Homo sapiens: one gene and its partner. The protein of the gene in region 1 interacts with the protein of each later gene in a pairwise test. Each region holds a gene or a part of one and is shown on either strand. Other genes may lie near its edges.

Region 1 (7,141 bases):
CTCCTGACCTCAGGTGATCCACCCGTCTTGGCCTCCCAAAGTGCTGGGATTACAGGCGTGAGCCACCGCGTCCGGCCCCTGGCAAATTGTTAATAATAAACCTCTCCCTGGGTTCTGATAACACCTCCATCCTCTTCTCCCTTCAGGCCTAGAGATGGTAAAAACTCCAGCTGTTGCTAGTCCCTGGATGTCTAACTATCCCTTGTTTGTTTTCCTTAACACCTTTATTCCTTCATTAAATTCTCTTCAATTAGCCTTTAAATGTGCCATGTGTTTCCTGATACCCAGGCCTATAATATGTAGATTTTCCCAATATAATTCACAAAACCATGTATCCAAAAGGTAAGAGAAAGTTTTTTTGGGGTTTTCCAATTATGCAGACAGCTATTGGAAATCTTAACTCATTCAAAATAAATCATCTCATGTATTTTCACTTTCTCCTGTTGTCCATTTCATCTCGCAAGACGTAGGGGAGGCCATAAAGGGATGTGTTGCTTTGGATTTAAGTCAGATCAAAACTTTAGACAAAGCATAATAATTTGTGATAATCAAGGCAGACAATGTTGGGTATGAAGAAACGTGTGAACTCAACTTTAGACGTTCAGATTTCTAAAATGTCAAAGAAGTATTAGAGAAGATTCCAGGGAGTCTTAATAAGTAAGTTAGCTCAAAAGGGATAGGATCTTTTCAGAAATTAAATTCTGAGACTACCATGAGCAGCCAAAAATATGATGGGTTATGGTTTCCGAATACCTCTACTTTTAAAGGGACTTGCAGGAAAAAAATAGCTGATGGAGAAGGGGTATGCATGTAAGAATGAATAGCTACCACTTTTTTTGTGTCTTTCTTTTTTCCTTTTTGTGCAGAAAAGGGTCTTGCTGTATTGCCCAGGCAGGTCTCTAACTCTTAGGCTCAAGGTATCCTCCTGCCTCTGCCTCCCTAAGTGTTGGGATTACAGGCATGAGCCACTGTGCTTGGCCTACACTTTTTTTTTTTTTTTTTGCTAACACTTTTAAGAATAGTTTCTGGGGAGCCTAAGGGGGGCAGATTGTTTGAGCCCAGGAGTTCCAAACCAGCCTGGGCAATGTGGCAAAACCCCATCTCTATAAAAAACACAAAAATCAAGTGGATATGGTGGCATGTGCCTGTAGTAGTTCCAGCTACTGGGGAGGCTGAGGTGAAAAAATTGCTTGAGCCCGGGTTGCAGTGAGGAAAGATTTCGCCACTGCGCTCCTGCCTGGGTGACAGAGTGAGACCCTGTCAAAGAAAAAAAAAAATTCTGGAAAGTTAAAAGTCCAGAATAGGCCAAGCTCTGCAAACTTGGGAGAAGAAACTATTTTTAAAGTTACATTTCAAGCAAAATGCACAAAAAGGGGATGGTTGTAGAATAGGGGAAATGAACAAACGTGCTTACATGAACAGTTATAGAGGTCTTAGAAAAAGTGGAGAGCCAAAGCATGATGGAGGAATAGAGAAAAACAGATGGAAAAAAAAGAGAAATGGTCAATTCTGGGAACTCAGTCCAGTGAACTTCACATTGACTCTGGAAAAATTCTGAAAACGAGTTATTAAACAGATGGTTAGTAAGCTCTTAGAGAAGCAATAGCCTACTCAGAGTCAGGATAGGTACGACTGTATCATGCCAAGCTGAACATATTTCCTTTTTGATGGGTCTGCAATAACCAATTCAGATTTAATACAGCTCTAATATTGTCCCTCTCAGTGTTTTCTCTCTCTTTCATCCTGACATTTCTCATAAACTGCAGATCATTTATTCTTTTTTTTTTCTTTTGAGACGGAGTTTTGCTCTTGTTGCCCAGGCTGGAGTGCAGTGGTGCAATCTCGGCTCACTGCAACCTCCGCCTCCCGGGTTCAAGCGATTCTCCTGCCTCAGCCTCCCAAGTAGCTGGGATTACAGGCATGTGCCACCATGCCCGGCTACTTTTGTATTTTTAGTAGAGATGAGGTTTCACCATGTTGGCCAGGATGGTCTCGATCTCTTAACCTTGTGATCTGCCCGCCTCGGCCTCCCAAAGTGCTGGGATTACAGGCATAAGCCACTGTGCCTGGCCCATTTATTCTTTTATTAGACAAATATATGAGCACCTACTAAGTGCCTAACACTGTGTAGGCACTGAGTTTACATCAAGGAAAACCTAAGCAGGGTCTCTACACTCAAACAGTTTACTTTGGGGTGGGCAGTACTTTCCCAATTCTGGGATTTTTCCTAGCTATCAGCTCTCTCCCTGTCTTTTCTAAACCACACGCGGTTATCCTGAACTCACACAACCCTCAGAGTCTAGGGCTTCCCTGTCTGTCCTAACCTTCCTTTTGTTTTCAACTTTACAGCAGGGAATAGACTGGGCTGCATCCTTCCTTGGCCAACAGGTACTGTCTTCTTTTGCAATATACTCAGACATGCTATCATTCAGGTTCCATGCAACATATATCAATTATCTAAATTTCAAATTTGGCTAACCTGCCTTTCCAGCCTCACCTTCCATTTCATCCCTTCAGTTGTTACCAGCCCCAATCCTAGCCCCCACCTACAGGTGTCCACGTCTGTGCCTTTTTGCTCAATGTATTTTCTCATTCAGGAATGCCTGACATCTCCTTCTCCACCTATAGAAATCTTACATATTTCCTAATACCCAGCTCAAAAACTGCCTTCTCTGGATGGGCTTAATTACTTACTTTGCTCAATAAGTTCTGCCAAAGCCCCCATGCTTGACTTGTGCTGTACTATTGCCCTCTCATCTTCCCTTCTCAATTACTTGTTCAGAGCAAAGGTCTTCAGAGCTTCCACTCTGTCCAGCTGCGGTACTTTACAACATGGGTTGGTAAACTAAGATCTGAAATAAGAATAACCGTTGAAACGGTTGAAAAAAGATCAAAAGGGCCTGGCTCAGTGGCTCACACCTGTAATTCCAGCACCTTGGGAGGCTGAGGTGGGAGGATCACTTGAGCCCTGGATGTCCAGGCTGCAGTGAGCCGAGATCATGCCACTGTACTCCGGCCTAGGCAGCAGAGCAAGACTGCTCTCTCTGTCTTTCTTTAACCCTCACCTTCCCTTCAAAACCTAACAAAGACCATGTTTAAATCAATAGAAGAACATTTTATGACGTGAAAATTATATGAAATTCAAATTTCAGTGTCCATACATAAATCTTTATAGGAACACAGCCCATATTTTCTATGACTGCTTTTGAGCTCCAATGGCAGAGTTGAGTAGCTGAGAAAGAGATCTTATGGTCCACAAAGCCTAAATATTTACTGTACGGCCCAAAGAAAAACTTTGCTGAGCCTGCTATACAATAAGGGCTTCATGATTAAATAACTGGGTCGTACACCAAGATTCTGAACATATAGGCAGGCCCTCTTAAGTTTAGTGTCTTTGTGTAATGGAAGTAATAACTATTTTGCCTTTAAGTTGCCATAAACATCAAATGAGATAATGCACTTAGAAAATAAAAACAAAAAAAACTTATAAACAAGACAGCTTTATCATGTATTGAAGGTGGTAGAATAAGAAAACATTAAACGTTTTTATTCTCATTTCCCCTTCTTTCCTTTACAGCTTTCACTTAAACTTGAAATTTCAAGAGAAAATTCACTTTTGAAGTTTTTACTTTTCAAGTGATAATAGGGTCACAGGTTCTTTCCTTCCAGTCTTTTTGTGTTGCTCCCACTCCCTTTTCTTTCTCACATGTAATTTTTTTCCATTTTCTTTAAATAGTATCTCAACTGGGCTCACAATAGCTCAGGGAAGGAGAAACTGGGACATGCCTGATTAATCCATTTTACAGGCCAGGAAACTGAGGCAGATCCCAGTTGCCTCCGAAGCTCTGACTCAGCAGCATGCAGAGAGCCCTGCCGCTCTCTGCGCCTTTTCTAAACAAATAGAACAAAACTAACCTTGCCAGGTTTCCAAGCTTGGATCTCTAACACTCCTTCAACGTTCACCCCGGCGTTCCTCCCCGCTGCGCCCCCTCCCTCTCCTTGCCGCCCCCTCCTCGGGAGCAGGTGGTAGGCTCCGCGCCCAACGCGCAAGCGCGCGGCATCGTGGGGCGGGGGTGGGGCGGGACTGAGGGCGGAGTGTGAGCGGGCTCGGTTTTGGGCCGCGGCGGGAGCGGGAGTCGCCGCCACTCGAGTGCGCAGGCGCCTGGCGATTACCGGTCTCACCATGGAGCGGAAAGGTGAGCGGTGGAGCGGCCTCCGCCACGAGGGGCAATGGTCGCCGGGGCGAGGCCCGGGTCAGCGCCGGGAGCTTCGCTTAACTGCCGCGGTTCGGTTCCCGGACGTGCGGCGCCCCTCCACTGAGGTGGCGCCGCCCCACACCCCCTGCCTCTGGGCTGCGGGTCCGCGCCCCTCAGTCCGGGCGTCCTCTGGCGCCGGCCGTAGCCGCCCCTTGTTCCCCGCCAGGCCGGCTCGCGCCTTGGGGCCACTCCAGGGCCCGGCCCTTGGCGGGCGACGCAGACCCCCACCCGCCCGCCCCCTGACCCGGCCTGAGACCCCTCCGGCGCATCCCGCCCGGGCGCTGCTCTGCGCCCCGTGGGCCGCCAGCCCCACGGCCGGCCGCCTCGCCGGAGCCCGCAGCCGCCCCCGAGGCAGGCCCCGCAGCCGGGCCTGGCGCCCCTGCTGGGTCTCCACCCTCACCTTGGTCGCCTCCTTTCCTCCACATTCGCCCTTCATCCATCCCTCTCTCCTGCAGTGCTTGCGCTCCAGGCCCGAAAGAAAAGGACCAAGGCCAAGAAGGACAAAGCCCAAAGGAAGTGAGTCTTGTACCCCAACATCCCATTCTTTGGATTTTCCTCCGGCACCTTCTCTGCTCTGGTTTCACGTCTTGAACGTGCACCGGGTTTGGGCACCCTGTGGCTGCAGCCACATGGCCTCGGGGCAGCTCGGAGGGTCGCTCTCCAGCAACCATGTGGAAGAGAGCTGCTGTTGCTCAACGCCAGGCCTGGGTCTTAGCAGCCCCGGGCCTGCTGGAAAGGGCTGTCGGAGGAGGACCAGAGCCCGCCCGGTACCTTTCCTCCCCAACTCCACAGAGGAGGCACAAACTCCCCTAGCTTGGACCTCCCCACCGGAGCTGGTAGATCATTATCGGTCTGTTTCTGAACTCTGGTCTCTCTTACCTGCTCCCCAACGTCTTAACTTGCCTCCGACGTCTTCACGGTAGGCCTTAAGGAAATTCTTGAATGAATTTTTCCGTGTTTACTTTGGGTTCTACCAACCACACACTCCCTTTCATAGAGGAGGGCATGGGGCTTTTCCCTGGGTTAGTCAACTTCCTGAGCCTGTAAGGCGTATCGGCTTTTTTGCAGTGTGCCGGCAGACCGCTGTGTATACAGTCGGTGTCTGTTAACTGCTTCTCTTCTGTCTAAACCTCAACCAGATGCAGATAATCTTCCGGAGTGGACATCACAATAGTAACGGGAGAGTTCTTTAACAAACATTGATGATTCTGGTTTGGCGTATTAAGCGCCACATGTCCAGTTTTATCAGTAGGATGCATAACAGTAGTTTAGTGCTATCGTGGCAAGTTCAAAAGTTGGTCACAGCCTAGTAGAAACTCAGGTAGCAGGCTTAGCAGCAAGTGAGGCTAAGCCTTAAGAACTTTCATCATGTACTAACGTTTAATTGCAAAGGATCTTGGAAATCAGCTCTTACACACTTTGTATTCAGAGAGAGCTTGTATGCCTAGTTATTAATACATCTTAATTTTAGATGTATTATCTTTATAGTTTTACATTTATTTGATGTTTTGTGGCATCGTATGCGGTCTAATTCCCTCTGAGCTGATACAACACATTTCAAAGGCCTTCCTAGGTCACCCCACTGAATGACAATACCAGATTAGGGGGGTGTAGGGGTGTGTGTTGTTTTTGGAGGCTACCTACTGTTTGGGGAGAGCACATAATGACTTCTCTCTTTCAATAGAACTAAAGTGGTAGGTGACCTCACCTCTTGCTCCATTTTCTCTTCTGTCTTATGAAATGTATTTTGTAAGTGCTTGGTGACGAAGTCTTGTAAATGAGAGTTTGTGTGTGTCTGTTTACCTTTGGATTATCCATATATGGGATTATTCAAAACCAGTTTTTAATCCTAGATCGTTTAATAGAAACAGCAAGGTGCTAACTTGGTTCTAGTGTGCAGTAGGACTTGAAATGTTACTTTTCTGTGCCTAGTTTAGTTATTCTTTGTGGAATTGATGAGAATGTGTTAAAACGTTCTTTTCTATTGATACAAGGAAGTTGCAGTTTTTATTATATTACTCTGTATTTTTTAGAAATCCTGGTCTCTCAGACTATTTGTCCAGATCTCTCTTACCACTTAGAAATTAATTTGAGATTAGCCCAAATCAAGCTGTAATTTGAGGGGTAAATGTATATAGATGATATACTTTAAGCACCAGAAATCTGTTACTTTCGATTATCTATTTAGACCATATGCTTTATTTCTAAAGTCAGATGTGTATCTGTTACCCCATTCACTACTATGGATAACTTAGAGTTATTTGTGTTAATTGTTTGCAAGTATGGATTATAGATAATCTAGCAGTCATTTTACTGAATATTTCATCTTGAACAACTTTGAATCCTGAAAATATGCGTGAATGAACTGCCCCCATTTCCTTGTAACTTCAGAGGTGTTTTATTTTTGGATTTGTTTCCAATTAATAAGTTTTTTTTGTTTGTTTGTTTTTGAATTTACCTACCTTTTTTTTCTTTTTCTTTTTGAGGCAAAAAGAAAGCCTGTTGCCCAGGCTGCAGTGCAATGGTGCGATCTCGGCTCACTGCAACCTCCACCTACCAGATTCAAGCAATTCTCTTGCCTCAGCCCCCCAAGTAGCTGGGACTACAGGCGTGTGCCACTACGCCTGGTTAATTTTTGTATTTTTTGTAGAGAGAGAGTTTCGCCATGTTGCCCAGGCTGGTCTCGAACTCCTGAGCTCAGGTAATCCGCCTGCCTCAGCCTCCCAAAGTGCTGGGATTACAGGCATGAGCCACTGCACCTTGCTCTTTTTCTTTCTTCCTTTTTGTCTTTCTTTCTGTCTTTCTTTTCTTTTGTTTGTATCCCAGCCTCCTTTTAAGTAGCTGAAATGTCTAATTAAGTTGGTTAGAGTACTGTGTTAGAAGTT
Region 2 (7,000 bases), on another chromosome or scaffold:
ACACCTCGACTTTGGCCTTCACCTGCCCCAGGGCCCCAGGGGCTGCCTCAGCCCCTAGTGGGTCTTTCTCGTCCGGGGGCCCCGGGTCAGCACCCATAGAGTCAGGCTCATCCAGGGGAAACTCCAGCTCTGCAGATCGGCTCAGGGGCTTGACGGGGGACACATCCCCACTAGGGGTGAGGTCACTGCTTTGCTCCCGTTCCTCGTTGTCCTTCATTTTCTTATAATGCAGACAAGGGATGCTACTCAGAGGAGGGTCGTGTTTCTGTGGATAGTGAAATTGCAATATGGATTACAAGGACAACCCGAGAGTCTGAAACTCTGATGCCTTTCACCGGCCTCTGCTTGGCTGCGGTGCCATGTGTGTGGATGTGCACGTTTTGGTCTGAGAACTTACAAGCCTAAAGTCACGACTGATGCCTCCCCTACCCGTATGCTTCCCGTTCCCAAGAAGTATGGCCTGGACCAGGTGACCACCCGAGACTCTCTGTGTAGGTACACCGGGACTCCAGAGTTATGGAATGTCATGATCCACCCGTCGGGCAGCGGCTCTGTAGGTGGGCGGCCACGACCTGCACAGGAAGACAAGAACATCCTATAATCACTGTAAAAACACTTGGAATTGTTGCCACAGCACCTCCTGCACAAGAAATTGTTGGGTACTAGCATGTGTTTAACTGGGTCTTCACAGATAATCGAAATTCCTCTCTGCCTTGCTCACTGCTATGCCTCCAGGCCTAGGACAGATAGCATGTGGCCTGAGGTGGGAATTTACACGTGTCAAACCAGCACATGAAGGAGCACAGAACAGGTCTGTGCAAGATATAAGTCCCAGCCTCAGCTCCTGCCTCCACATCTGGTAAGCACTGTGGACACTGGACTCCTTTGCTGCCTGTCTGGTTGTGGCCAGAGGCGCCTTGGGGCTGGATGAGCTTTGCTAATAAACTGCATGGCTGTCAGCCACTGCTCCCAGTGACCAGGTGACAAGTCTTTATTGTAACTGAGCTGCACTCTCAGCAGCATACAAAACACTGCTTCAAATGATTCCGTTTCTAAGTTGGTTTAATACACTACTCCCAACCCCTTCTTTGCTTTATAGGCAGTTGTGAGGAAGAGGTTTACGACTTATCAACTTGACACCTGCCACCAGGCCTGACTGCTGGGAAGAGCGTAAGGCAAAGATGTAACTAAAACTTAATTTTCTCACAGGTATTGGGAACAAGTTAAAAACTTAGAAAGACCAGCCTAGGCAACACAGCAAGACCCTGACTCTACAAAAAACTTTTTAAAATTATCCAGGCATGGTGGCATACACCTATAGTCCTGGCTACTTGGGAAGCTGAGGTGGGAGGATCACTTGAGCCTGGGAGGCTGAGGCTGTAGTGAGCTACTCCAACCTGGGTAACAGCAAGACCCCGCCTCAAAAAAAAAATTAAAAAACAGAAGAAAGCAAATGAAACCTTAAAAAATATACATAAGGGGAAAAAGGGCCAGTGACTCTCAGGGCTAGGTACCCACCAAGTGGCCCTGACCCTGGACCTGACACCTGTACCCAGGCCACCATCAGGTGATGATTCAGGGAGGGAGTGTTAAAGGTCAGGGGTGCATGCACACTGCGTGGGCTCTCTCCCCACAGAGTCAGGCCAAGATGGAGCTGCCTCCTGCCAGCTTTAGGTTAAGTCAGGAAAAGAAGCAAAGGGAATACGGAGCCAAGCAAGAGACGGGCCACGGGTCCGCTGGGGCTGCTCCTCTGTGACAGTGAGTGGTCACAAAGTTGGCCCAGCCACCTGAGGTGGGGGTCACATGCAGCTGTCCGTCTGTGAACATCCAGGCATCCAGGCCAGAATGGCTGCTGACCAGTGAGCTGTGCAGGACGAATGTGGGTTTACCTTCTGAATGAGCCTGTTGAAAATGCAGCACCAAACCAGCCTCCTAGAGGCCCCGAGGTCAAGACTCCTGCCCCCAGCCCCAGAAGCTGAAGCCCCAGGTTTACCCTGCCTGCAACCGTCTAGACCAAAAGCCCTCCTGCTTAACTGCTACCAACACGACATAGGCAGCAACATGTGGCACCTGGCATAGCTAACTTGTCCCCTCAATGGCCCAAGGAGGATGGCCATGTGCCACCCGCCCCTTGCTTTGCTCCCAGTCGCACCCTGCCACCTTGTGCACCCCAGCCCTCAGCCTGGGGTCTCACCTGTGAGCCTGAGTCCCCGTGCATCTCTTCAGTCCCTCTACCGAGCCCCACATCTCCACCAGGACCCTCATAGGTGCCTCCAAGCCACCAACTCCGACTCCCCCAACACCTGCACCACATCGATGACAGAGCCTCACAGTGCAACTCTGGGCGCCTCTCAAGTGCTCTCCCCACTACCCTCAACTCAAAGTTGAGGAAGTGCCACGTCGACCAGGGCACTTCCACCCTGCCCAGCTGAAGTGCACACACCATGCTGTGGCCCAGAAGCCATGTTGTTAAACAAAAATCAGGTAACACCACTTGCTTCTGGTGGCTTCCTGTGACACTTGGTCCAGGACTAGAACCTGGATCACAACTATCACCTGCCATCTCACTGTGTACCCACCTTGCCCTTGGTCTCCACACCCTCCAGCTGATGGTCATGCTGGCTCCTGGCATATACCAACATCCCCTCCTGACCCCCTCAGAAGTCCCCTCCCATTCCTCTGCACAGTGCCTGCTGCTCTGTGGTTTCCATAGCACACACCAGGATCCGCATCTGGGTCATGCATCAGGACGTCCTCCCATCCTGTGTTTCCCTCCTCAGATATTTCTGTCCTGTCCTCAAACATGCCTCCACCCAGCCCACTACCTGGCACCAGAGCTCTCTCAAAGCATTTCTGCTAAGGAAGCAACCACCCCTCCACTGCCCTGGAACACCCACTGCTTCTGACCCACACACGTACTTTTGAGCACTGTTTTAATCTTGGTCATCATCGGCTGCACACTTGTCTCTCCATCGGACGGATGGTCGCTGTCTCCGCCATATTTTTCCTCTGTTCGCCTCTTTTTGGGGGCACAAAGGCCTTCTTCCAGCAGAGCATCCACATCGTTGTCAAAGTCATCCTGCAAAACACGCTGTTCAGACACCAGAGCCCCTGGCGCTCATGCTCCTGCAACAGGAGAGCTCAACAGCATTCCTGAGAACAGACACAGAAAGGAGGTGCTCTCAGGGGGCCTAGATGTGCCCTTAGGGTGCATGATCATCTGAAAAACAAACAGGATGAAGCTACCAGCTGACACCAACACACCTGGTCCAGGGGCACACACTGCCAAGGAGCGTAACTCAGCAGCACCTGCTGCCCCACGCGCTAGATCAGGGATGCAGGGCCTACCCATGGGCCAAACTTTTCATTAGGAAACTTTAAAAATCTGGACTCCTTACATCTTTCTCTTCTCCACATTAACATTATTCCACCTCAGAGGGGATTTTGGTTTTTGTTTTTTTTTTTTTTAATTTCCCTGCTTTCAAAAGATGCTGCAATTCCCAAATCTCTCTTTGGGTTTTGCTAAGAGCCCTCTAGAGGAGGGGCTGCCAACATACCTCGTAGGGGAAATTCAAGGCCTCTTCATCCACTCTGTCTCTCTGAACGATTGCTTTAGCCGTGAACCCGCCTGCTCCTTCTTCATCTAGCTCCAAATTGTCAGTAAAATCTTCTAACTCATCGAGCACTGCATACTCCACTCTCTTTTCCTGATCCAGCTCATTCTCCTCATCCTTCTTATCAGCACTCTCACCCCCTATGCCTACCCCGTCACCAACACTCCCGCCAAAGGGACAAGCATGCACGTCCCCACTGACAGGGCTAAGGAGCAGACCGCACTCCGCCCGCACGTCGCGCTCTGCTCCTGTGTACAGCACCTTCCTGTCCTTACTCCTGCAGCTCTCGGTAAAGCTCACGCTAATCTTTACATCCTTAAGCAACTTAAGGTCAGGGGAGAACTTCCGGACCGCAGGTGCGTGCCGGGCGGTGCGCGGGCTGTGGCCACTACAGTTCGGGTCTATGAGGAGGCGGCCCTTAGAGAAGGATCCTTTGGAGAGAAGAGAAGCTCCGTAGAAGTTGAAGGGGTCCTCAGCAGGGAGTTCGGACTGTCCATCACCACCAGAGCCAACGTCCATTACCTCTGCACCACTGGACGTTTGCAGGGGAGGTGGTGGAGACTGCTCACGGGGCAGCGCTTGGAAGGGGCGAGCTCGGCTCTCCATCACCGCTTCTCCTGCGGGCCCACACGGGAGCGGAGAGGGGCTCTCATCTGTCTCCATATTAAAAGCGCTTAAGACTAGTTTACAAGACCAGAGTTTTACAAGCCCTCACATAAATCTACACAGCTAACATGCACAAGTCCGCTGAGACCCGGGCGCGTCCTGCCGCGCTGTGCGCTGGCGGCTTAGTCAAGCTGGCCACATTGCTCTTTTCATTAATGTAGACAGCTTTTAGAACCACTGCCTCAATTATTGGAAATCACAATGCACTCAGCTTAAGTGACTGGCGACTAAGCGAGTCTGTCTTCATGCCGGAGTGGCACCTTTCTTCTTCTACCTGCAAAGAAATTTAAAAATATCGTCACAAAATGACAGAAACCTTCCAATTCCCTGGTACCAAGTTAAAAGCCAAGCACTATTAACAGCATAGTAAAGGGCTTCAAAATAATATTCCCTAAGAGGACTTTTTAGGCATCAAAACAAACTAACCTTACTTTTATTCTTCAGAACCTGAATTATAACTTAAGTCCAAAGTTAAATATTTTGTTAATGCCCACTTTAATTCCTACTTCAGAAACACAAAAACTATATAATCATAAGGCTCAAAAAATATTTTAAAAATTTACACTAAACTCCACCACAGCATTCTTCTAACTCAGATAAGCAAGCATGCAGTGGGAGGCACCCTTTCTGGAACACACAGAAGGCGCGTGGCCTCCCTCAGGCCACCAGAGCACAGCAATCCACTCACCTGCAAGGGCTGGGTCAGTCAGAGGGCGAGCGCGAGACCCTCAGCTCAACTCTGCGGCACTAGGGGCCTCAGAGGCATGGCCAGGCGCTCTGCTACCCAGGGACCCCAGGGCTCTCCTGGGCCCACAGGGTAGCACGTGGACGGGGACAGTGATGCAGCGTGCTGAGGTCACCAGAGGTGGCAGCATAGTTCTGTTCCCGATGGAGGAGAGGGGTGGGTGGCTGTGGGGAAGGGACCTGCCAGGATTTGGGGTGGGGAGCCACAAGAGACAGCTGGAGCCGAGGCACAGAGAGGCCTGGGTGCCACCTGCAGCCCGTTCCGCCCTGGGGACAATAAGGAGCCACTGAAGGTGAAGCGACTCTCATGCCACAAGTAGGTTCCTACTTGAGAGGGGAGACCCACAGCTGTGCCAGGCAGAAGCAACTGCATCCAAGGCACGGGGACAGTCCTCCAGGCCAGAGGACAAAGGTGTGAAAGAGGCCCTGGCAATGGGCCAAGAACAGTGTCACAGAACTGACCGCACTTGTTGACCCAACGGAGGTGGATAGCAGAGAAAAGAGGGAACTAAAGACAAGGAAGGACACCCAAATTCCAGCATGCAGGCAGGAGCCTGGCGAGGAGAACAGAGGGGACCTCCAGGCAGGCTCTGAAGGTGCCGAGGCCACAACTCTGGAGCCATGACTGGTCCAGATACGGAAGGCCAGGACGCACTGAGGAGGTAGTCGCCAAACCCACAGGAGGAAGGCCACCCAGAGATGAGGGTTAAGGATGCAACTCTAGGAAGCCTTACTACAGAGGAAGCATGAAGAAAGGGACAACATGAAGCAGGGAAGATGGGTCTGAGGGGGCAGCCAGAAAACCCTGCATCAGAGCAGAAGGAACACATGCAGACACACGCACATGCACACTCCCACAACGTGCACAGGAACACGCATGCATGCACATGCGTGCATACCAGTAAAGATGCACACATGCAAACCGCACTGCATGACCTAACATCCTCCCAAGATTCCCGGAAAGAACAGGAGATGCAGACATCACACATTTAACAAGGGACAAGGCATGGTGGATGTACTTCGAAGGGGACACAACATGAAAACCAGAGACTAGTTTAGGTTTAATCAATACATTTAACAACTATCCACTGGCCATCTACTCCGAGGAACGCACTATATGGACAAGAGACAAGGTCACAGGGCCTGGACACACTGGCAGGTCAATGACCACTGCACTGTCACCCCATTTCCTGGATTCTAAGATGTCCTAACATTTCTGAATCTAATGGGAATTTCACACCGTATGTTCCCAAAGATGTGTCCATCAAAGGTGCTGAGGATCCAGGAAACACAGCACAGAGCTAACAACTGACTATAAAGTGCTGAAGACGCTCAAGAGGCTGTGGGCAGCAACCAGGCAGGCATGAGGAACACTAAGTGGGGTGAGGTCAGTCTCCTGGCAACCAAGAAAGACCATTAGAGAAAACAGACCGAGGGGTCAATGCGCCCAGTGCCACAGATTACAAGGAAGACCAGGGCCACACACCTCAGAACCTGGCAGTCCCATAGAGACCCTGGTGAGTCAATCCATGATTCTGGGACACAAAAAGCTACATGAAGAAGCCACAAGGAGCAGGGGATTAGAGACCAACAGTGGGACGGAATGGGGAAGCCTGCTACCACAGAAGGCGAAGAAGCAGCTAGAGTAGACGTTCCAAGCAAAGGTGCTAATGGGGCCAAGCGGCGGCACTGAAGAAATGCACAGCAGGAAAGCCTGGTGCCTTACAAGTGAGTGAGCTCCTTAGGAAAGCAGGAAACCTGCCCAGCCCCAGACCTCAGTGGTGGGCAGTCCTGGGCAAGTTCCTTCCTCCCCTCTATAAGCTTTCTCCATTCATCACACACACACACACCATCCTAGATGCTACAGACACAAGGTGGACAAAACCCTGCCCTACAGAGCTCACATTTTAGTGGGGGAGATGGACCGCTAACAACTAAGAAAAGCATGCACCCTGTCACATGCCAAGAAGTATTCA

Evidence for each region. Proteins that work in one complex are often made in the same cells at the same time.
Region 2: the proteins of SRPK1 (region 1) and DGCR8 interact in binary tests that used the Homo sapiens proteins (3 or more experiments, as listed by UniProt).

What each region holds. Positions count from the first base shown.
Region 1 is NC_000006.12:35,918,099-35,925,239, reverse strand, and holds the start of SRPK1 (SRSF protein kinase 1), read left to right. Parts: upstream 1-4,141; 5' UTR 4,142-4,183; coding exon 4,184-4,196; intron 4,197-4,711; coding exon 4,712-4,772; intron 4,773-7,141. UniProt on the Homo sapiens protein: Serine/arginine-rich protein-specific kinase which specifically phosphorylates its substrates at serine residues located in regions rich in arginine/serine dipeptides, known as RS domains and is involved in the phosphorylation of SR splicing factors and the regulation of splicing.
Region 2 is NC_000022.11:20,083,241-20,090,240, reverse strand, and holds part of DGCR8 (microprocessor complex subunit DGCR8), read right to left. Parts: exon of another isoform or gene 4,969-7,000; intron 4,555-4,968; 5' UTR 4,278-4,554; coding exon 3,558-4,277; intron 3,080-3,557; coding exon 2,920-3,079; intron 573-2,919; coding exon 430-572; exon of another isoform or gene 398-429; intron 266-397; coding exon 1-265.